Linked DNA regions of Homo sapiens. The protein of the gene in region 3 interacts with the protein of the main gene of each other region in a biochemical or structural test. Each region holds a gene or a part of one and is shown on either strand. Other genes may lie near its edges.

Region 1 (7,648 bases), on a different chromosome or scaffold from region 3:
TAGAGAATAAGGCCTACATTTTTTACTACTAATATGAACAATCCAATCCCTATGTATAAGCATTCCCAAATGAACTCTGCTCTTCCCCATTTAAAAAAAAAAAGTTGAAAGAAATAAGCACATCTGAGCCTGCGCCTTTGGGAGGCTGAGGTGGGCGGATCACAAGGTCAAGAGATCAAGACCATCCTGGCCAACATGGTGAAACCCCGTCTCTACTAAAAATACAAAAATTAGCCAGGCGTAGTGGCGCATGCCTGTAGTCCCAGCTACTCAGGAGGCTGAGGCAGGAGAATTGCTTGAACCCGGGAGGCGGAGCTTACAGTGAGCTGAGATCGCGCCACTGCACTCCAGCCTGGGTGATAGAGCAAGACTCTGTCTCAAAAAAAAAAAAAAAAAAAAAAAAAGGAAATAAGCACATCTTCGCTCCTGACTGGGGAGGCTTCACTTTGAATTCTACCTTCCTAACTGCATCTTTAAAACTATCATAACCTCTAACAACCTTAAACATAAAGGAAAGGTGATAAATGTATAGTAGAAAATGAGGTAAAATGAACAGGAAAAAGACAGGTCCTTCACTTGGTTATCTTCTAATTGAGAAAACCACTACATGTTGTTTCAAGTTATCTGATCGAATCTTTTACTCAGAGATGTTTCAAATATTCAAAATCCAAGTTCATCCTCCTAAAAGTGATCATTTCCCATGCTGTATTCCATGGGCATATAATCATACCACCCAGAGGGCAAAGAGCATTTCTGTGCTAGATGTGAGGTCCCATATTCTTACTAGGTGTTCCAAAAACTGTCTTAAACCCCAGGTCTAAAAATCTTTCTATAGTGAAATAGACTAGCTCCATGCTCTGTTGACAGGTTCAGACAGGATCATACATATGGCTAAGAGATCCACCCTGAATAAAGGTAAACAAGATGCCTTTTCATGGAGTTGCTTACACGTTATAGTTCACACAAAACAATCTCCCCAGTATGACTGCTCCAATCTTACTTTGTATGAATAGGAATGATTCTTCTTCTTCCACTGCTTAGGAACAGCTCACTTTAAGTCATTCAACAGAGCACACTTAGTCCTAAAGATGCCAATTCATTTCACAAATATTTCTTTAAATAATAGATTCTAAGCATAATTTTTCCTGGCCAAAGGGTCCCAATAGCCAGAAGGAGTAACTTTGTTCTTAATTGCTTTTGCAAAGCACAGTCACTAAAGCCCACCAAAAACTTCTTCAGCACAAAGCTCAAAATATTTTTAAAGGAGAAAAGAAAAGGAAGGAAGGAAAGAAAAAGAAAAGGAAAAGACAGAGGGAGGTGGAGTTTAGACTCCAATTAAGGCATTTTTATACATATAGTCCAACTTGAGTCCTATTCAAAGAGAATCCTAAAAAGATGTTTTCAATGGGGAATGGCAAAAATCACAATAGTCTATTATCAGCATTGTAGAACTATCAATTGCTCACTTCAAATGCAATCATGTTGAATGTCTGTTTCTTCGTTCCTCGGTTCTCTCATTCCACAAGTGCATAGGTTATGTCTTCTGTAGGTCTGGGGAAAATGGGCCAGGGGTGGAAGGTCCATCCAGCCCAGACAGAGTGAATGGCCCATGACTGTTCAGTACAGAAGGAAACTGAGAAAGAAAACAAAACACATTATCATCCTATTACTCAACCCCAACTTTTACTTTCTATCCTACTCTATTACCTGAGGCAAAACACAACAGCCTTCTGTAATGGCTCACAGGACAAAGGCAGTGGCTGTTTATCATGAAAGAATATGATGTCATAACAAAAACTAGAAACAAAAATCTTTTGTCCTAACATATTAAATATTAACATTCTCCAACTTACCTCAATGGAGTAGAAACAAAGAACAACCTGTACCCTCCTTCATATCCTAAGGTACACAGGTTTACAATTAACCTCAAATGAAGGTTTTAGAAAGTTCAAGTAAATGACAATATGCACTACAGAGTGTAATTCAATTATGGAGCAAATCATAAACCCTCAAAAAGAGATCCAGAAAGGTATAAATAGCACTCATCCTAGAAAAGGGTTCCCCATCAAGTATTCTGAGGCCAGCTCTACAGGGAGATTCCAGGCTGAAGCTACAGGAGCACTATGACTTTGCTTAAGGTCTCAGCTGACTCTATAACTCAATTATCTGCTCATGTGTGGCAATGAAAAAAAATATGAAAAATTCTCAACTTTTTTTTCTATTCAATAATTTTAAACGTTGGCAAAAAATAAAAAGCAGAGAGATTTTTAATTTTCCTCTTTTTCCCTACCATTTCATTTCTAAAAGAATGAGAAGTTAAATTACAAAATATAAGAAAATCAGAGATAGTCAACCATGAATAAGTAAATGAATTGACTCCAAGAAAGTCTTTAAGTTATAACATCTAAGTGTTTTGGGCAAAATAATGGCTAAACCCATTAGGAATGGCAAGAACTTTCCTAACGTCTTGGTGAAGAGATAATATTCATTTTTTTAAAAATGTACATATAAAATGTTGATAAATTATCAATTCTGACTGAGGGAGAAATGGGACTGTTTGATATACCATTTTCAAGACCTTTCTCTATTAAAAAAAAAAAAATGCTTGGGCCGCGTGCAGTGGCTCATGCCTGTAATCCCAGCACTTCGGGAGGCTGAGGCGGGCGGATCACCTGAGGTCAGGAGTTTGAGACCAGCCTGATCAACATGAAGAAACCTCGTCTCTACTAAAAATACAAAATTAGCCTAGCATGGTGGCACATGCCTATAATCCTGGCTACTCGGGAGGCTGAGGCAGGAGAACCGCTTGAACCCAGGAGGCAGAGGTTGCAGTGAGCTGAGATCGTGCCATTGCATTCTGGCCTGGACAACAAGAGCAAAACTCCGCCTCAAAAAAAAATTTTTTTTAATCTTTAATTAAAAGAGGGAACCTATGTGCAGAGATCCCCCATATATGTGTGTGTGTGTGTGTGTGAGAGAGAGAGAGAGCAAGAGAGAGAGAGAGAGTGTGTGTGTGTGGATTTTGTTTTTTTGAGACAAGGTCTCACTGTGTCACCCAGGCCGGAGTGCAGCGGTGCCATTATAGCTCACTGCAGCCTTGATCTACTGGGCTCAAGCGGTCCTCCCACCTCAGCCTCCCAAGTAGCTCTAGGGGCCACAGGCACGTGCTACCATGCCTAACTTAATTTTTTTTATTTCTAGTACAGACAAGGTCTCCTTAGGTTGTCCAGGCTGGTCTCAAACTCCTGAGCTCAAGCAATCTTCCTGCCTCGGCCTACCAAAGCGCTGGGATTACAGGCATGACACACACACTGCCTGGCCCATTTTTTTTTTTTAAATAGAGAATTTCTAGTGACAAAAACTTGGGGTAGGCTCTAAATCTCCTACAGTATTGAACAATTCTTGGTCTAACTCAAATGTATGTAATAGTAAATAATGAAAATGAAACTTTGCTATATTTATTCAAGCTGTTTGCCAGCTAGAAAATTAATATTTGGAAATTCAAAAATAAATCTAAAGAATATTCATTGGGCAGGGCACAATGGCTCATGCCTGTAATCCCAACACTTTGGGAGGCCAAGGTGGGCGGATCACCTGAGGTCAGGAGTTGGAGACCAGTCTGGACAACATGGTCAAACCCTGTCTCACTAAAAACACAAAAATCAACCAGACGTGGTGTTGCACACCTGTAATCTTAGCTACTCCGGAGGCTGAGGCAGGAGAATCGCTTGAACCTGGAAGGTGCAGGTTGCAGTGAGCTGAGATTATGCCACTGCACTCCAGCCTGGGTGACATGGTGAGGACTCCATCTCAAAAAAATAAAAAAAGAATATTCATTAAATAGAAGTTTTATAATGATTAAACTGAATAGTGGGACCCTGCCTTTTTGCCTCTTTCTTCATTTAACATGCTCCAACTACAGAAGACAGATATTTATAAAATTACCTGGAAAAGTGTGTTAGCACCTTGCAGTCTGGCTGGACTTAGGGGAGCAACAGGACTGAGAGTACTCCAGAAGTGGATACTGGAGAGCAAGGGGCTTGGAGTCAGTATGATGGGTGTCTGCAATACACAAAGCAAAAATATTCACTGACTGACTTACCAGGATGTTTTATCCTTGAAACAGCACACAAATAACCCAAACCTAAATATTGCCCTATCCTCCACTCCAAATATCTCCAAGTCTGAAATATTATCATGACAAAACTCAAAAATTATTTTTACAAACTAAGAGGGATAAAGGTGATAATAACTACTTAAAATTTTTTAAATTTTTATTTCAATAGTTTTTGGGGGTACAAGTGGTTTTTGGTTACATGGATGAGTTCTTTGGTGGTAAATTCTGAGATTCTGGTGCTCAACCTCTTTTTAAGCCAACATTTATAAAGTCTTTTCCAAATAGAAAAACCAACCTGAATTCAGGTACAGAGGAATAATGGGTAACCAAGACACCAGCATGTTTGTTTTTTTTTAATAATGAGGTGTGTGAAAAATCTACTAAAATGTTCTATGAGATGAGCAAGTTAATAAATAGCTAAAGTAACTGTACCAACTTGTTACTCAACATCACACCAGTCATTTTTCTTATGGTTCTCAGGACCTACTGTTTTCTAACTTGAGATTATCACTGTTTGTTTTATAAGACACCAACGAGTTTTATAAGACCGAGAGAGAGCGAGAGAGTGTGTGTACTTTCTTTAGGAGGAAATAGAAAAATCAAAATATTTATTTACTTGTAGAACAATGAATTTTTTAAGAAAATACTCCAAACTTTCTATTTTAGCAATCCTAATTAAGATGAGAAATGGGGTAACTTTCACATGACAGTCACACATAACCTTTCTAAGACAAACCTAAGTAACAGAAAGCAAACTTGAGTGTATAAATTCTGGATTTGCTTAAAAGGGCAAATAAATGAAAGCAATGGTGACACCATAAAGAGCGAGCAAGCTACCTGTGAAAAAAATGCTGGTGTAAGAGAAGCTGTAGGGAGAGATGGGCTCAGTATTCCCAGTGGGCTTGGATCACTGCTCGTGATCACAAGGGTGGGTGCCAGTTCTAACCCTTTGGGTTTCTTGGATCTTGATGAATTATTTACTTTGTCCTTTTCTAGCAAGACTGAATCCTGGTCTTTAGGCTCCAGTGACAAATTCTCTGGAAGTTCCATTGGCTGAGAAGCCACTGAATCAATGTCTGTGTCGATGTCTGGGTGAGAACTCAGTGGTGGTGAAGGTGTTCTGGGAGGTTCCTGCAAAGGGGGTATGGACGAAATGGGTGGTGTGGTGGCAAAAGCAGTCATTACGTTAGAGGCAGAGGTTGGGGCTTCCAGGGAAGGCAGTTTTGGGGAAACCAATGTCTCCAAAGCTTGGATAGTTTCTTCTGAAGATGGAGAAATACTTGGGCCAATTGAAATGGTGGCAGCAACAGGTTCAACCGGTGGCTTTTTGGAAGGTGTCGTGACAAATTTGATGACAGATGGTGTGGGCTCCTGAGGAGATTTTTTCTCTGCCAGTTTCTCGGCTGGATTCTCAGTCTTTATCAATTTGAAAAGCTTTACATTGGAGGAGTTCAAAGAGTTGAGAGTAAATGAAGAATATAAGCCAGAGTGTATGTAGTCATTGCGGCTAGAGGTCTTGGCACCAGGCTGAGGTGGTTTATCTTTCCCTCCATTCTCCACATCTTTGGAACTGCTGCTGACTTCACTGAAGTTTAAACTTTCACAGTCACCCTCAATCCTGCCCACTGTCATTGGATCCATGTTCAAAATCTCTGGATAAGAGACAAACTTGTACACAAACTTCTGACCATTCACTTTTTTGATGATATTCTGTAGGTTAAAAAAAAAAGCATTTTTATCCTTTCTTATAAACTTATATCCCATAGTTCATGAAAAAGCTGGCATCGGCCAGGCACAGTGGCTCATGCCTGTAATCCCAGCACTTTGGAAGGCCGAGGAGGGCGGATCACGAGGTCAGGAGATTGAGACCAGCCTGGCCAACATGGTGAAACCCCGTCTCCACTAAAACAGAAAAAATTTGCAGGGCATGGTGGCGTGCGCCTGTAGTCCCAGCTACTCAGGAGGCCGAGGCAGGTGAATCCCTTGAACCCGGGAGGCGGAGGTTGCAGTGAGCCAAGATCACACCACTGCACTCCAGCCTGGTGACAGAGCAAGAGTCTGTCTTAAAAAAAAAAAAAAAAAAAAAAAAAAGAAAAAGCTGGTAATGAGGTTCTCCATTTTAGAAGTAGACATCACTTACTTAAAACTTTCAAAATCACCTAAATTCATCTAGCCATACCAAACACAGTCCCTACTATTATGGAGAAGTTAAGGCAAGAACATTTAAATGTCTTATTAACAACTGAACTAATATGTTACATAAAAACTGAAGGATTTTAATTGCTTACCACTCTCAACCAAATATCTGTGCAGATTAGAACTCCCTGAACTGCAGTCTCAAACAATTCCAAAGGTATAAGCCATACACATCCTGAGTAAGCAAAAAGGAATTTATTTACTTATTTTTTTGAGATGGAGTCTCACTCTGTCACCCAGGCTGGAGTGCAGTGGTGTGATCTCAGCTCACTGCAACCTCTGCCTCCTGGGTTCAAGCAATTCTCCTGCCTCAGCCTCCCAAGTAGGTGGGATTATAGGCACACATCACCATGCCCAGCTAATTTTGTATTTTTAGTAGAGATGGGGTTTTGCCATGTTGGCCAGGCTGGTCTTGAACTCCTGACCTCAACTGATCCACCCACCCCGGCCTCCCAAAGTGTTGGGATTACAGGCGTGAGCCACCGCGCCCGGCTGTGAAAAAGGAATTTAGAACATAGTATCTGTTAAGGTTCTTACTTCCTTCAGAAATTCCAGTTTATCTCCAGACAGGAAAGCTGGTAAGATCAACCACTTAATGGTGAAAGAGCCCTGCACAGTGGCTCACGCCTGTAATCCCAGCACTCTGGGAGGCCAAGGCAGGTGGACTGCCTGAGGTCAGGAGTTCAAGACCAGCCTCCCGTAGAGATGGTGAAACCCCATCTCTACCAAAAATACAAAAATTAGCCAGGTGTGGTGGTGCATGTCTGTAGTCCCAGCTACTCGGGAGGCTGAGGCAGGTGAATCACTTGAACCTGGGAGGCAGAAGTTGCAGTGAGCTGAGATCACGCCACTGTGTTCCAGCCTGGGCAACAGAGCAAGACTCCGTCTCAAACAAACAAACAAAAAAAAGTGAAAGAAATTAAGATCTCAGCAATTTTAACTAAAAAACCAACTCTGTGTATAAACAGCTACTACTTAAGGTATAAGGTTTTAATTTGTGTTCCCTGGGTTAAACTAAAACTAAAAATTAAGATATAAAACGTATATATGTAGATATATGTGTGTGTGTATATGTACATATATGACTTTTCTCCCCAACAAGACAGGGTTCTCATGGAGTGCAGTGGTGTGTGATCATGGCTCACTGCAGCCTCAACCACTTGAGCTTAAGTGATCCTCCTGCCTCAGCCTCCTGGGCACTGGGACTACAGGTGTACACCACCGCGCCACACTGTTTTTTGTAGAGACGGGGTCTCCCTGTGTTGCCCAGTCTGGTCTCAAATTTCTGGGCTCAAGTGATCCTCCTGCTGCAGCCTCCCAAAGTGCTGGCATTAC
Region 2 (7,265 bases), on a different chromosome or scaffold from region 3:
AGCAAAAAAAACCTTCCAGAGAAAGGTGGTTTCCAATATTACCTACAACTTCCTTTGCAATTTGATTTTTGAAAGGACCTAAAAGTTGAAAACAGGCTATCACATCCCATTTGCTTTAAAGTCTCTTAAACTTACGCTCTTTCGCTTCAAATGCATAAATGTTTTATTTAAGTTTGCATTGCCCACTAAGGCTAGACATTTTTTTTTTTTTTTTTTTTTTTTTTTTTTTGAGACAGAGTCTCGCTCTGTCGCCCAGGCTGGAGTACAGTGGCGGGATCTCGGCTCACTGCAAGCTCCGCCTCCCGGGTTCACGCCATTCTCCTGCCTCAGCCTCCCAAGTAGCTGGGACTACAGGCGCCCGCCACTACGCCCGGCTAATTTTTTGTATTTTTAGTAGAGACGGGGTTTCACCGTTTTAGCCGGGATGATCTCGATCTCCTGACCTCGTGATCCGCCCGCCTCGGCCTCCCAAAGTGCTGGGATTACAGGCGTGAGCCACCGCGCCCGGCCCGGCTAGACATTTTTTGATAAATTCACAGGGTTACAAAATACCAAACGGAAATGAGATAAGTGGTATAAACCACAGAAGATATAGGAGAAGAGAAAAAAAAAAGAGGAAATAAAGAAGACAACTCTTTTCCTAAGAGTCTGGGTAAAATTGAACATAGCCATATTCACTGAACAACATGAGTGAGCTTCATTAATTTAAGCACAGCAAAACTGCTTTAATTAACAAGACCAGAGAGAAGGGAGAGGAGACTACATTTGTGTGACCTAATGGTTGTGATTTCACTGTCCAAGAGGACAAAGACAAAGAAATTCTGGGAAGGAGAACAACAATTATATTCCCCCATTTCAAGAAGGGCAGAAGTGTCCCAACACTACCCAATATTTGCAAAATTCAAATGTCTCATAGGCTCTTCTTCCCTGGTTCCCTCAGGAGCTGGGTTTCTGGGTTGCAGAAGTGCTTTTCATATTCTGTATCTGGTTGTGGTGGCAATGTCACCACCCTACACTGCTGTGACACCGAAACAACCAAGCCTAGAATCAGCTGGTGCCTCTTTTCATCTGCAGGGTAGATTTGGCTTCCATGGTTGTTCACTGCTCTGTGTTAGGAAGGCTCAGTGACAGGTGTACAGCCTTCAGTAATGCCTCAAAGGTTCTCCAAGCAGAGGTAAACATGTGGGTCCTGCTGGTGACATATTAGACTTCTTACTTTCCCCAAATAAAAAAGTGCCTGCTGGGCGCGGTGGCTCACGCCTGTAATTCCAGCACTTTGGGAGGCCGAGGCGGGCGGAACACAAGGTCAGGAGATCAAGACCATCCTGGCCAATATGGTAAAACCCCATCTCTACTAAAAATACAAAATTAGGAAGGCGTGGTGGTGCACGCCTGTAATCCCAGCTAGTCGGGAGGCTGAGGCAGGAGAATTGCTTGAACTGGGGAGGCGGAAGTTGCAGTGAGCCAAGATCGCAGCATTGCACTCCAGCCTGGGCAACAGAATGAGATTGTCTCAAAAAAAAAAAAAAGTGCCACATGCCATGCTATGTGCCCAAAGTTTCCTTCACACAACACAGCCTTGAGATGCAGTATTAAATTCTACACTTTTCCTACCATAGTGATACATGTGGCTTTTCTTTGCTGTGTTCTGAGATGTCATGCTTTGAAATCAGTGGCCATTATCATCTAAGGATTCCGCCAGAGACTTCCAAAAGAAGAGGTCTCATTTATAAAGTGAATTTGAATAAAATGACCAGTTAGGTGTTTTCAGAAACACCTATGCCCTACTTGCCTACTCTTCAAGGGTTTAGGGGCTTAGGGGGAGGTTTTGTTTGGGTTTTTTGTTGCTGTTGCTTGTTTATTTGTTTGTTGTGTTTAAGACGTTTTACTTGTCCCTGAAATGTTTGTCATCACACAGATACACGCTCAGGATAAGAACTACCAGACTAGATTAGGAGGTCCACACCACCAATTGAGATGTACCTGTGCTCATGACTTGACATTGTGGTGGGCCGGCTACAACCCTCCCCACCCCTCGCTTTCACTAAATAACAACTCTCTTCTCTCCATCATTTTGACTTAGAGCCAGTCAGAATTCAATCTCCAATATCCTGACTAGCACAAGAAATCCATAGGTTGATTCTTGTTCTCCTGCATCTCTGCAGGTGGCAAACCTGATTCCTAATGCCTGTTCCTGCCTCTGCAGGGGTTCATTCAGAAAACAGGAAAATAACAAAGGCTTCCTGTAATTCTCTTTGGCTGTAATACAATTTGTTCCCGTCTGCCCCCAGGCTCACCCAGTGCTCTGTCTCAGTGGTAAGCTGTAACTGATCACTGCTGTATTAACTCAAAACTCATTTGCTTTATGGAAATTCATGGCCCTTATTTCTCAAGGGACCAGAGAAAACCAATAGGCCTACTCCCCAGCTGAGTACTTTCCATGCAAGCTACCGCATCTGTATAAATTAGGTTCAAATAACAGAGTATTTCCAGGATTTATAAATTCAGTATTACAAATAGTAATCTGGCAAGTGTTCTCAGGATCCCCTTGCTACCTGTAATTCAATCATATAACTTCTGAATGGGCTGGGGGAAAATAACAATAAGAAAAACTGGTGTTTACCTGAAGATCTGCCCAGTGATTTGTGTGTTTTCTTAATAAACTTTACCCACTTATTAAAAGAATAAAATGAAGGTGGAGTTAATTCTGACTACGGGATTCCTTTTTCACTTTTATAATGAACTCCTTCCTTCTAACTAAATCTTATCATAAGCAAATCTATGCACCAAATTATTTAGTACAATTCCTAATAACAGCTGAAGGACCATTTATTTGAAGCAATGTTCACCATAGCAAAATTCCAGTGAAGTCTAAGAACTGGGACAGTCCGTTGAGGATCCTTGTGCCAGGATGTATGTTGCCCCATGAATGTGCACATGCATATTAAAATATGGGCACCTCTTTTAATTCTTTTTTTTCTCATAATAAGTTTGAAACTCACAGTAGGAAATTGAGAGATCAATTTGGTTACTGTTTTATCATTGATCCTGAAGACAGTTGAAGCAATCATACTGGTTGTTCTCGAACTAGCTGGTTTCCCAGAGACAGCTGGAGACTGAGCACATAAAGACATCATTGAGGAAAAAGGCTACCTTGTACCTCATGGAGAGCTGAAGGTCTGATAAATGGGAACTGCCAGGTAATAGCTATGCTATTTCTGACATAAATTTAAAAACTAGTATTGTTTCTTCTAGCTCTGTTTTTGCATAGTGCACAGAGATCTTTGTAAAAAACAGGAAATTAATGTTAAATTGGATCTATAAACATAAGTCAATTTGGCTCTATTATGTCAAAAGAGAATAGGAGTTTTAACTTATATCTGTGTTTTATTAATATTTTGAAGTATAGGAACCTCATGGTGTAGCAGGATGAGCCACAGACAAAACCTCTCAGACACCGAGTTGTAGAAGGAAGGGCTTTATTCAGCTGGGAGCATCGACCAGCTACTGTCTCAAAATCCAAGCTCCCTGAGTACACAATTTCTGTCCCTTTTAAGGGCTCACAACACTAGATTTCACATGAAAGGGTCGTGATTGATTTGAGCAAGCAAGGGGTATGTGACAGGGGCTGCATGCACCGGTGGTCTGGGAGGAACAGAACAGGACAGGGAGTTCTTCTATACAATAGAGAACAGAACAATGTTCTTCTATACAATGTAAGGAATCTATGAATAACATCGGCTTCTAAATCATAAGTTGATTTTTAACTACTGGGTTTAGGCCAGGCGGGCCCAGGCCTGGTTTCGGGCCTGGCGCTGAGCTGCCTGTATTTGGTTTTACTTCCTTGTTGTTTTTACTGAATATGAAACAATATAAAACAATGTGAGAGGGTCTTTCTCTCCTCTCAATGTCAACATCATATATGATTGGAGACTTCCACATAATTGAGTTTTAGTGCCCACTGTTACAGAAAATCATAATGGAAAAACTAAAATGTCAATAATAATTTCAGATGTGTATTTTAGTTCTCATAAGAACATCTACATTCATTTGAAAAATAGTTCTATATCTATTCTTGAAACATATTTCTTTAGTTCAAGGTCTGATGAGCTCCCAGACTGTTGGGGATTGCTCTACAGCTGCTCAAGCTTTTGAAGACTCCTGTGATTTTTTTAAATGGCTGGTTTGGTTGAAGTTTCTCTTATCAGTCAGGCACTTTGCATTTTAAGCGTACTTTACCACCGACACCCTCCCCCCCCAGCACACACACACACACACACACACACACACACACAACATAGTGAAATGGACCCGTGGGAATTATATGATAGTTGTAATCAAAATAAAATGCAATCAATACTAAAATACAATTTACCAAAGGCTTACCTCCTTATTTGAAACTCCAGCATCAATAATTTACTTGCACTCTTGTTATTTACATTTGTACTCTGGAAGTAAACTTAAAATGAAAATTAGAATTTGCTTTCAATTATACTATCTCTATCTAAATCTTAATTTGAAATTTAAATTATTTTGTCTCTACCCAAACCATCGATTTCATGGAAATGTTTAAATTTTCTTTTTTTTTTTTTTTTTTGATGGAGTCTCACTCTGTCGCCCAGGCTGGAGTGCAGTGGCTCAATCTTGGCTCACTGCAACCTCTGCCTCCCGGGTTCACACCATTCTCCTGCTTCAGCCTCCTGAGTAGCTGGGACTACAGGTGCCCGCCACAACACCTGGCTAATTTTTTGTATTTTTAGTAGAGATGGGGTTTCACCACGTTAGCCAGGATGGTTTCGATCTCCTGACCTCGTGATCTGCCTGCCTCGGCCTCCCAAAGTGTTGGGATTACAGGTGTGAGCCACTGCGCCTGGCCAGAAATGTTTAAAATTTCATAAATCTTGAATCCATAAAATTCAATGCTACCATTTATAATTTAATACTCCTACCATAAAAATTTCTGTGTTAGGCATAGCTATATGAATATTTGCCTATAAATCCCCATCAATTTAATAGGAATTAAGTTAGAAATACTAGTATATATATTCCCTTTATATACTAATTGTATATCCATATAAAAGCATTAGTACCATTATATGAAAGTATATATGCCATTCCATAAAAATATATCTACCAATATAAATAGAATATATAAAGGGAATATATATATACCAATATAAATGGGAATTTATATTGGCACATACATTTCCATTATTTTAATGGGAATTAAAGAAAAAATGCCTGTTTTCACTAAGTCATCCTTCCCCTGGCAATACATTTCCTGAACTTTTACATACTTAAATAGCCAGTTATGAAAATGTAAAACAATGAGTGATCTTGTTGTTTTCATTTTATTATGTTATATGAAAAAAAGAAACCTTGTAAGTGCAGATTTATTTTAAAAAATTGAAAAACTACTCTGTCAAACATAGCAAATAGGAAAGTTAAAAAAAAGTAAGTCTAAAGATTAGGTGCTCTGTCACTTGTCATTACATTTTTTTATAACATTAATGACACATTTTTTGCTATCCAAATATAATTTCCACTAGAAAAGAAAAGATGTCCTCCATGTTTTAAATTGCATTTGAAATTCAGGTAACTAATAACCCTTGGTTTTAAAAGATACATATAATGTTTCCGTAGGAAAAAAATCAAAATATTGTAAAGAATCTGAGTAAATGAGAGCCTCTCATGGTTGATTAAGTTCAGACATTTTAAACAGACTCCTGCCCACAAACTATTTTTCCTCTCCAGGAATAAGAATGGCAACTGAATTGTTCCTTCTTTATTCTATAGCTTTAAGTCAAACCTAACATAAGCAATCAACCCTTCCACCCATTGTCCTCTTTCTAGCTGCTTATATTCCTGAGTCTGAAAGAAGGGCAGAATTAATTCGTTTCCTTGACAGTGTTGGGGGTGAAATAAAAGATAGACCCCTGCTGCTCTGCACGTAGATTCAGTTTGTATGCCAGGGTGACATTTTAATTTACAGTAGTCCAGACACCTAAACAGGACATAGAAATGTCAACTGGTCATATTAAAATAAAAAAGTATAGAATAGTTTCTGTTTTACGGATTTTGTATCCAAGTAAATGAAAACACAATCACCTTTCAAAACATGGTATGAAATCCACAGTTGTAACAGTGAGCACAACATGCTTTCTGTGTGTGTTTTTAAGCTCTTTCCCCACATCTGCTTTTCAAAAATATTTGCCTGGAAACCTGTATTTCGCCTATAGAGACAAATACATATATTGTTTGTTGTGATAATGCACAAAAAGGAATGTTAAAAAAAAACACACAACATTGTTTTCCTTTTGATGGTCTGGGAGTTTTTCTATAAGTTTTTGGTTTTTTTTTTTTTTTCTCTTCATTAGTGTGTTAGTTCCATCATCATGTCTGTTTACTATTGAAAAATAAATATCTTCATTTAAAGTAGAGACAAAGCTACTATTTCACATTTCCAGGTAGGACAGGATGATCAGATGCAGCTTTCAAAAGAACTACCTGCTAAATCATAATGGTCTCATGTGCAGATCAAAATGTCAACTAGTATATCAAACAGTGAGCAATTCACTAAATTATTTTTACATTACTCCTATTTGACTGTTTCAGATAGTTGTATATAAAAAATATAAATTTTTGCATTGTATTGTTCTTGATGTACCAGCATACATAAACATATTAGGCTGTATTGTAAGTTTCCTGCATGTAATATGTAATGTGTAATTATATGTGATAAATAAAACCTAAAACTGATACAAATCTAGATTTTCCCTTGTCTTTCTCATTCTGACATTACTGACCTGTTTTAAAAGAATATTCCCCAAGTAAATGTTGCGACGTAGGTAAATAGCCTAAGAATTAGAGTAACAGACAACTTTGATACTAAATAAATACTTCAAAATAAAGAAGTGAACTTTCTCTCTTCATGAATTATTTCTATTTTTAGAACCAAAATGTCTCTAAACCTTGACAACCATAACTTCCTAAGCTAGAATTCTAACCAAACCATACAGAGAAGAAAAATATCCACTGTAAAGTCTATAGTTGAAAATATAGGCAGCTAAATCCACTGATAGTCTACTTTTTTTAAAAATGTGTTCTTGATGTTTTGAGCAGGAAAATTATTTGCAAGAAACAAAGAGTTTGATAAGGTGAAATTCAGAGCATGCTCTGGGTTGTTAGGTACAATTTTTTGAAGTGGAAACGTCTCAACATGAAAACACTTTATGGTAAGAAAAAAACGGCTGGGCGTGGTGGCT
Region 3 (8,297 bases):
CACACCGACTTCTCATCTGGATACTTCTCCAGCCGCTGGGGCCCCTTGCTGGAGGATTTCCGGAACACCAGCCAGCACCTCCGGTAGATCTGTGGAGCGAGATGACAGGGCTCAGGCCTCCCTGGACCACTCCCACCCCACCAGCATGGCCCTGCAGCCACCCCTGCCTGCCACAGGGGGCGGTGCCGCACAGCCTTCCCTGGAGCCCCAGCCTGGGGACACCGGGGGTGGGAGTCACCAGCAGTGTCACCTCCCTGGGAGAGAAGCCTCCTCCCCAAATTGAAAAGTCATTGACTTCTTGGCTGGCTCCAAAACGCTGTTCCACAAAGGGTGCTCTCCTGACCTGCCATGTACTGTGTGCACCGCTGAGTTTAGTGTGAGTAGCCAACGTTCCTGAGTGCTTCCTGCTCACACCTGTTATTAGCACTGTGCACAGTCTCAGGGCCACTCCTGAGATCAGTTCTGTTATCATCCCCATTTTATAGATGGGGAAAGGGAGGCATCAAAACACTAAGGAATGGTGATGCTGGTATTTGCAGCAGGCTGTCTAGATCCAGGGCAGACCCTCACAGCCCACTGCAGGATCTGGCCAGGGCTCAGGCAGTGCCAGCCACAACAGAGGGGTCTCCTGGGGATAGGGATTAGACCCTTCCCCCTGCCCACCTGTACATCCCCGTGCCCCTAGTTCTCTGAGTCAGGTGAGGGTCTTTACAAAGGTAACCCCCACTCTTGTCTCCTGGGGCTTTCACTCACCCTCTCTTTTCATTCTCTTACCAACCCTGAAATGTAAGGGGCCCTGCTCCAGCTGGGAACCCAAAGCTGTTTGAGGTAAAGGGGTGGAGCTAGGAATCTGAGGCTCCTCCCACAGCATGGTGCCTTCCCTCCTGGCCCTGGCCACTGCTGATGCCCCTGTACCTTAAACTACCTACATTCTCTGTAGCTTCAGGGACTCCCCCAAGGGGGTGGGGAGCAGAGGGGAGTGACCACTCTAGGATTGAAGGGACAGACTGGCCTATCATTCATGGGTGGTGGAGAGGGAGTTGGCCCCAGCCACCAGCCAGAGCTGCCCTTGCATGACCCCTCCCTCCTGCCTAGACTTTTTTCTGCCCAAAGTCTGTGGCTGGGGTTTACCTACTCCTTCCAGCGGGCATTCCAAAAGCCCGACAGAGCCTGTTCCCCAGGCATCTCTGGTGTTCCTCTTACTGGAAACAGTAGGGAGACTGAGTGGTGGCCGAGAGCACAGCAGAGGAGGCCAGGGGGCCTCTAGGCCCCACCCCTCCTCGGCCCTACTGTGCCATGCGTACACTAGGTCCTTGGCAGGCAGGGTCCCAGGGTGCAGTGGCCCTAGGCAGCCCCCATTTCAAGATACCACTCAGAGCCAGGCCATTTCTGGCTCCTATCTGGGACCCTAGGAGGCATGTCTGCTCCTGCACCCCTGACCCTGGCTTGGCCCCTGTCCTACCCACCTAAACCACAGCAGCCCTCAGCTCTCAGCTGCAGCGCTCCCTTAAGACAGACACTGAATTTTATCCACAGAATCCTCACTCATATCCTGGTAGCCTCATTAACAGCCATGCTAAACAAGTGAATGACCATATGAAGGAACCGTGAATGAATGGATGGATGAATGGATGGATGCTGCCGACCCAGATACACCCTGCCAGGGTGGGCTCCATGCAGCCCGCAGCATCAGGGGCAGAAGGCCTGGGGGCCTGAGCATGCCGGTTGCCTGGTTACAGGATACACATTCACAGCCCCAGGGAGCCACGCGCTCAAGAGCCCTCCTTCCCACTTCGCACAGGGCTTTGATCAGTGCTTCAGAAACACTCTGCCACAGCTCTGCCGCGGGAGAAAGGCCCTGGCAGGTAGGAGAGCCGGCTCCTGATCTCTTTCAGCCCCTCCCCCCTCACCTCTGTGGGCTGAGATGAGAATGGCTGCTGGGGAGGGACCACAGCCTCTCACACCAGGGGAAGTGAGGCTCCTGGCTTCAGAGGGAAGAGAATTCCCTGCATGGATAGGGCCTGGCTATGCCCCACCTCCCCATCCAGGCTGTGCCCACCTGTCAGCCACTCAGTCTCCCTCTGGAACAGGTTTGATACTGAGCCCAAGTGGCTGCCCTTGTGGCTGGTGCCTTCCTGGCACACTCTGCCCTGGGCAAGGCCTCAGCCCAGCTGGCCCCTGGGGACCTGCTAAGTCTGGGGCCATAGGAATGAGAAGTGATGTTAGAAGCGAAGCCTCTGCTTCCTTGGCCTCCCTACCTCAGCCTCAGCTTCTCTCTTTGTTCTGTGCTCCAAGTCAGTGGGCTGATCCCCCTTTCAGAGGAAGAGCAAAGTAGCCGATGGCTGCCAGGGCCCAGTCTCAACTAGGTTGAGCCCCAGGGCAGGGAGGCACAGGAGGGGAAGTGGGGCCAGAACCACCTTCTCCAAGACCAGCCCTGCTCTGTCTGGTACCCAGGTAGGGAAGCTGGGTGGCAGATCCCTCTCCCACTCCGCATGCCCCCCAACCCCACTCAGGCTGAGCCAGGGATCCTTGAGCAGCCTGAGCCGACCCGCCCCCTTCAAGGCAATGGGAGAGAGAAGGGAGAAGGGGACAGGAGTCCTGGGTCAAACACAAGACTTGGGTGACCTCAGTCACCAGGGCTGTCCTTCCTACAGGGGAAGGGGCAACTGCCAGACCTGTCTTTGGCAGGGGGGCCTGGCAGAGGAATAGAGGCAGCTCTCAGACAGCCTCGCCGAGATCATGAAGTTGATCCCCTCTGCTCCTGTCTTCTAGGGGGTCTTCACCAGTTGGGGGTCTACAGAGGGTAGGACAGGATGCATGCCCAGTAAGACCTCTTCTCTGTAGCCCCTCCAAGCCCCCAGTTCAGGGCCAAGCACCAAGCAAGCACAGAGTCACCCACCAACAACTTGGAGGGAAGCAGCCTGTCCCAGAGCACTGGACCATTCTGCCCAAAGTTCTCATTTGGAAACCACATAAATATCAGCTTCAGTGCCTCACACCACCCCGTCTCGCCCAGCCAACCACTCCCCTTTTCAAACACTTCTTTAACATTAAACTCGACAACCAAAAATTTACTAAATATCTGCACACGGAAAGCAGTCAGAAGCAAGGGGAGAGGATGACCTAAAAGAAAAGAGGCCAGGAGAGGTGAGGGGAGGCCGGGGGTGGGGGGCAAACGGAAGGGAGAGGAGGCCAGGGGAAGTGAGACGCTGCTTCTCAGCTCAGACACAGCCCGGCCTTGCCAGCCGCCCCTGCTGCTGCTGTGGTGACAACTTCAACAATAGCAGGGGAGCCGCCTGCCCATCGGTGGCCACCATTGCTGCCACTACCACCACCACTGGCCCAGCTGTTGGGATGCCAGCCAGCCCTCTGGGGCGGGGGCTGCAGCAGGCAGAACCCAGCCCAGGCACATGCCAGGCAGCACGCTGGCGAGGAGCCCCGAGACCACAGATGCACGATGCCCGGCAGCCGGAGGGCAGCCGCGTGCCCCACGCGCCATGCCTCCAAGCCTGGGACCGAGTCCTCGGGCCCCCATCCCTTGGCAGGGCCCCTCCGCAGCTCAGGGTCACTCACCCCGAGCTTCCTGCTCTTCATCTTCACGTAGCCTTGCTTGACGATGTCACTGAAATTGGTCGCCATGGTTTTCCCACCTTTTAGGGGCGCGGGGCCTGGCAGAGGCGAGGGGAAGGATGCCCAGGTGCCTGGGTCTCCGGCTCCTCCAATCACCTGTTCCAGACACTCTGTCGGGGCTGCCGCGAGGGGCTGCTCCTCACCTCACCCGCCTCAGCATTGTTCTAGCAGCTCCTTCGCCCCGCGCCTGCTGGAAATAAAAATGACAGGGAGATTAGAGACAGTGACATCTTTCTCTTCCTCTCGCTGTCTCGCTCTCTTTTTTCCTTCCTCTTCCCACACTCCTCCTCTCTCCCTCTTCCCTCCCTCCTTCCTCCCGCCCTTCTTCCTTCCCTTCCCTCCCCACCCCAGGACGACAGAACCATTCAGGAAAACCGAGGTGGAGGCGGCAGTGAGGAAAATGGTCCAGCCCAGTCCCCTCCCTCACGGCTGGGGCTGGCAGTTAACCCCTTCCTGGGAGGACTGGCTCTGGCTCCTACTGTGGAGGTGGGGACCCAGGAAGGGAAGTGGCAGGGAGCTGCTGTCCCTCAGCACTTTGGGATCGTGGCCCCATCAACTGTGATAACTCTGGTGCAAATTTAGGTCAACTTGCCAAGAGCAAAAGCCCCTTCCTGGGTACAAGAGCTCCCAGGGGTAGCAGGGAAGCGCTTCCCAGAGATGGAGGAGGAGGGTCGCAGGAGATGACCCCTGCGTGTCTGAGTGAACCCCATGCTCTGCAATGTTAAAGACAATTTGCCTGGTCAGCTCAGCAGCCCCCACAAACCCCTCTACCCTCCTGCCCCACCCGGTCCTCTACCTGTTTCTCTCCAGCCCCAGGCTAAGAATCACTACCTCGAGCTCACGCAGGGCCTGTTCCCAGGCCCTGCAACTCTTCCGCACGCAGCTCTGGGTGCTGCTTCCTGGGTGGGAGGGCAGAGTCCAGTGGGGCGGGCCTCCAGATAAGCCTGAGGAATGTGCTGGGCCGGCTGGAGGTAGCCACTGTGGGAGCAGACGCCTTGCCCTGGCCCTGGGGTTGGGAACGCTGGCCAGTCCGTGAGGGTGGGGCCCGGGCCCCAACAGGCCACTGGGTCTGGCCAAGCCAAGCAGGCCCTCCATGTCCTGAGCATGGGCAGGAGTTAATTATAGGAGTACCAGTCAGGGCCCTGGGGCAACAAGACATGCAGGAGACAATGTGGGATACCAAGGGGAGGTAGATATGGAGCAGGAAGTGGGAGTACCAGCAGAGCCACCCCAAATCAGGCAGATCTACAGACAACAAAGACTCAGACTCAGGGGGAGGCTCAGTGTTGACCCAGTCTAACCCCTTCATTTTATAGATGGAGAAAGAAAAGTTGCCCAGAGAGGGTAAGCTACATGACTAAGGTCACACAGCAGGCCTGGGGCAGAGCCAGGGATGAAGGAGAAGGTCCAGGGTGGTGATGGAGACCAGTCTGTGGGGGGAACATCCTGCTGCCGTCTCTGGCTGCCTGCCACCACCTAAGCCTTCCCTGCCATCCATCCTCGGGGGCAGGGTTATGCCAGCAATGTGGCCCCTGTGTCTTCAGGATCAGCGGGTGGGAACGGAGCAGCATTTCTGGGGTCAGCTGGGTATCTGTGCTGCCAGAACGGGGCCCTGGGACAGGCATGCTGCTGGTTGTGCCAGCAGCTTGGCATTAATTAATGTCCTGGAGGCCTGTCTGTTGAGTGCCTAACAAGGAACAGATGGGACTACCCCAGTGGGCACACGCACAGATGGGACTACCCCAGTGGGCACACGCAAACAAGGGAGGGGCAGAGACGGTAATGCGCCCCTATCCCACTTGCACCCTGATAGCCCCTCAATTCCACTCCTGCCCATTCACTGCCTCTATCCCAGCTCCCTGGGGTCCAAGAACCTCCCACAGTTAGGCAGTCTACATTCCTCCTATAAGGTCTGGTCTGGGGTCCCCTCACTGGCAACTGATCCCCAACAGCTCTGCTACACCTGGGCTCTGGCAGCCAGAGATGGGTCAATTTTCTCAGCTCTGTCTTCACCGCCTGCCTCTGGGGCTGCCTTCTCCTCAGAGCAAGGACCAGCTCAGGAGTTCCTCTCCAAGATGATTAGCAGGCTGACCACTGGCTGTGGGTCTACAGTGTGGAAGCCCCCAGTCAGAACACGCCTACAGGAAGCCACTGGACCCCCAGGTTCATCCAACATAGCTCAGACATAGCACAGCCCGGAGTGTGAATCCAGCTGGCTGTGTGGTCCTGGGCAAGCCGCTTAAGACCCTGTGCCTTAATTTCCCCATTGGAAAAAAATGAGAATAAATCTACCTACTTTAAATGAGGAAATGAATTCATGAGGCACCTGCTTGCCCACTTGGGACACAGAGCTTCTACCCTTTTTCTTTTTCTTTTTCTTTTTTGAGACGGAGTCTCCCTCTGTCGCCCAGGCTGGAGTGCAGCGGCGCGATCTCGGCTCACTGCAACCTCTGCCTCCTGGGTTCACGCCATTCTCCTGCCTCGGCTTCCCGAGTAGCTGGAACTACAGGCTCCCACCACCATGCTCGGCTAATTTTCGGTATTTTTAGTAGAGACGGGGTTTCACCGTGTTAGCCAGGATGGTCTCGATCTCCTGACCTCATGATCCGCCCGCCTCGGCCTCCCAAAGTGCTGGGATTACAGGCGTGAGCCACTGCGCCCGGCCTTCTTTTTCTTCTTTTGAGACAGTGTCCTGCTCTGTCACCCAGGCTGGAGTGCAGGGGTGCCATCACGGCTTACGGCAGCCTCAACCACCCAGGCTCAAGTGATCCACCCACCTCAGCCTCCTGAATAGCTGGGACCGCAGGTACATACCACCATGCCCAGCTAATTTTTAAAAACTTGTTTGTAGAGATGGGGCTTTTGTTTTTTTTTTTTTTTTTTTTTGAGACGGAGTCTCACTCTATTGCCCAGGCTGGAGTGCAGTGGCCCAATCTCGGCTCATTGCAAGCTCCGCCTCCCGGGTTCACGCCATTCTCCTTCCTCAGCCTCCCGAGTAGCTGGGACTACAGGAGCCCACCACCATACCCGGCTAATTGTTTCATATTTTTAGTAAAGACGGGGTTTCACCGTGTTAGCCAGGATGGTCTCGATCTCCTGACCTTGTGATCCACCCGCCTCGGCCTTCCAACGTTCTGGGATTACAGGCGTGAGCCACTGCGCCCGGCCCCTAGAGATGGGTTTTCACCATGTTGCCCAGGCTGGTCTTGAACTCCTGGGGTCAAGTGATCCACAAGGCTCGGCCTCCCTGAGTGCTGAGATTACAGGTGTGAGCAACTGCGCCTGGCCAGAGCTTCTGCCTTGAAAACTCCAAGGGCTGTGTGTATGTATATATATATAGTTTTCTTCAAGAGTTGCTGCCCAGACAGGGCGGTGAAACCACCAGAAGCCAGCCTGCTCCTTCCCAGTGTTGCCCCACCAGGGACTGTGGCCCCAAGCTCGCAGGAGTGCTCCTGCTGCGTCTGTCCATAGGCCCCACCCCGTCCCATACCCCAGGTCCCCAGCGGGAAGAGTGACCTTCACGGGGAAGGCTGGGTGCCAAAGTCCTGCCAGCTCACTCCGGCCCTGAGTCACAGGGACCCCTGGCCACACTTAGTCCCTAATGATGTTTGCAAGAGCAAGACCTAACCTAGGACCCAAAATGGTGGGCAAAGAGGGGTTCGGAAGGGGAGGGAAAGGTCAGGGCCAATAGGTGGACCCACAAATTTGACAGGCAGTGGGGTCAAGTGGTGAGGGGGGGGCCCAGAACCAACCCACCATCCTCCAGAAGGAATGCACTGTGTTAAGCAAGCGAGGCGGCCCCCAAGCTGAGCCTGTGAAGGCCCAATAGGACAGCAAGAAGTGGAGAGCAGACCAGGCACAGTGGCTCACACCTGTAATCCCAACACTTTGGGAGGCCAAAGTGGGAGGATCACTTGGGGCCAGGAGTTCAAGACCAGATCCGGCAACATAGAGAGACCCCGTCTCTACAAAAAATGAAAAAATAAGCTGGGCATGTGGCACGTGCCTGTAGTCACAGCTACTGGGGAGGCCGAGGTGGGAGGATCACTTGAGCTCAGGAATTCCAGGTAGCAGTGAGCTATGATCAAGCCACTGCACTCCAGCCTGGGTGATAGAGTGAGACTGTTTCTAAAAAATTTCAAAAAAATCAATTAAAAAAATACAAAAATTGGAGGGCAGCTGAGGCTAGGCAGGCCAGGAATTGGGTTGAAGTAGCCCCTGCCCTGTTTGTCCCTCAGGCCCTTGTCCCCAACAGGCCTGCAGCAGGAAGAATGCTTGCTACTTTGAGAGGACCTGAGGTCTTGGGTCCTTCCCCAGCACTGTGAGCTCCGAGCTCCCAGCTAAGCACGGTGTCCAGCAGTCGCTCTCAGGGTTCCAGTGAGGGAGGAGGGGAGCAAGGGCCCCCCGCATCCCACCTCCCAGCCTGGTACCAATACTGCTGCTTACCCAGGGACAGTACCTGCCTGGTGCCAGGCCACCACAGGTTTCCGCGCAGGGAGAGCCAGCTCCAAAATGCTCCTCTCCCCAGGAAGGGCTGGTGTCCTGGGGTGGCGGGGAGTAGGGAGACTCCCAGGGCCCTCACTGCCCACCTGCCCCACAGGGCAGCCATGCTGAGCACTCCCTCTCGCACATGGATTCTGCCTGGAGGCTTTGGCTCCAGAACAAAC

The links. Proteins that work in one complex are often made in the same cells at the same time.
Region 1: the proteins of DOK4 (region 3) and ELK4 form a complex in vitro, tested with the Homo sapiens proteins (one study listed by BioGRID).
Region 2: the proteins of DOK4 (region 3) and OPRM1 form a complex in vitro, tested with the Homo sapiens proteins (one study listed by BioGRID).

What each region holds. Positions count from the first base shown.
Region 1 is NC_000001.11:205,615,012-205,622,659, forward strand, and holds part of ELK4 (ETS domain-containing protein Elk-4), read right to left. Parts: intron 5,828-7,648; coding exon 4,955-5,827; coding exon of another isoform or gene 4,817-4,954; exon of another isoform or gene 4,257-4,816; intron 4,063-4,256; coding exon 3,946-4,062; intron 1,634-3,945; coding exon 1,535-1,633; 3' UTR 1-1,534. UniProt on the Homo sapiens protein: Involved in both transcriptional activation and repression. Interaction with SIRT7 leads to recruitment and stabilization of SIRT7 at promoters, followed by deacetylation of histone H3 at 'Lys-18' (H3K18Ac) and subsequent transcription repression.
Region 2 is NC_000006.12:154,125,592-154,132,856, forward strand, and holds the end of OPRM1 (mu-type opioid receptor), read left to right. Parts: 3' UTR 1-6,765; downstream 6,766-7,265. UniProt on the Homo sapiens protein: Receptor for endogenous opioids such as beta-endorphin and endomorphin. Receptor for natural and synthetic opioids including morphine, heroin, DAMGO, fentanyl, etorphine, buprenorphin and methadone.
Region 3 is NC_000016.10:57,475,869-57,484,165, forward strand, and holds part of DOK4 (docking protein 4), read right to left. Parts: intron 4,522-8,297; exon of another isoform or gene 4,427-4,521; intron 3,890-4,426; exon of another isoform or gene 3,821-3,889; 5' UTR 3,640-3,820; coding exon 3,574-3,639; intron 90-3,573; coding exon 1-89. UniProt on the Homo sapiens protein: DOK proteins are enzymatically inert adaptor or scaffolding proteins. They provide a docking platform for the assembly of multimolecular signaling complexes.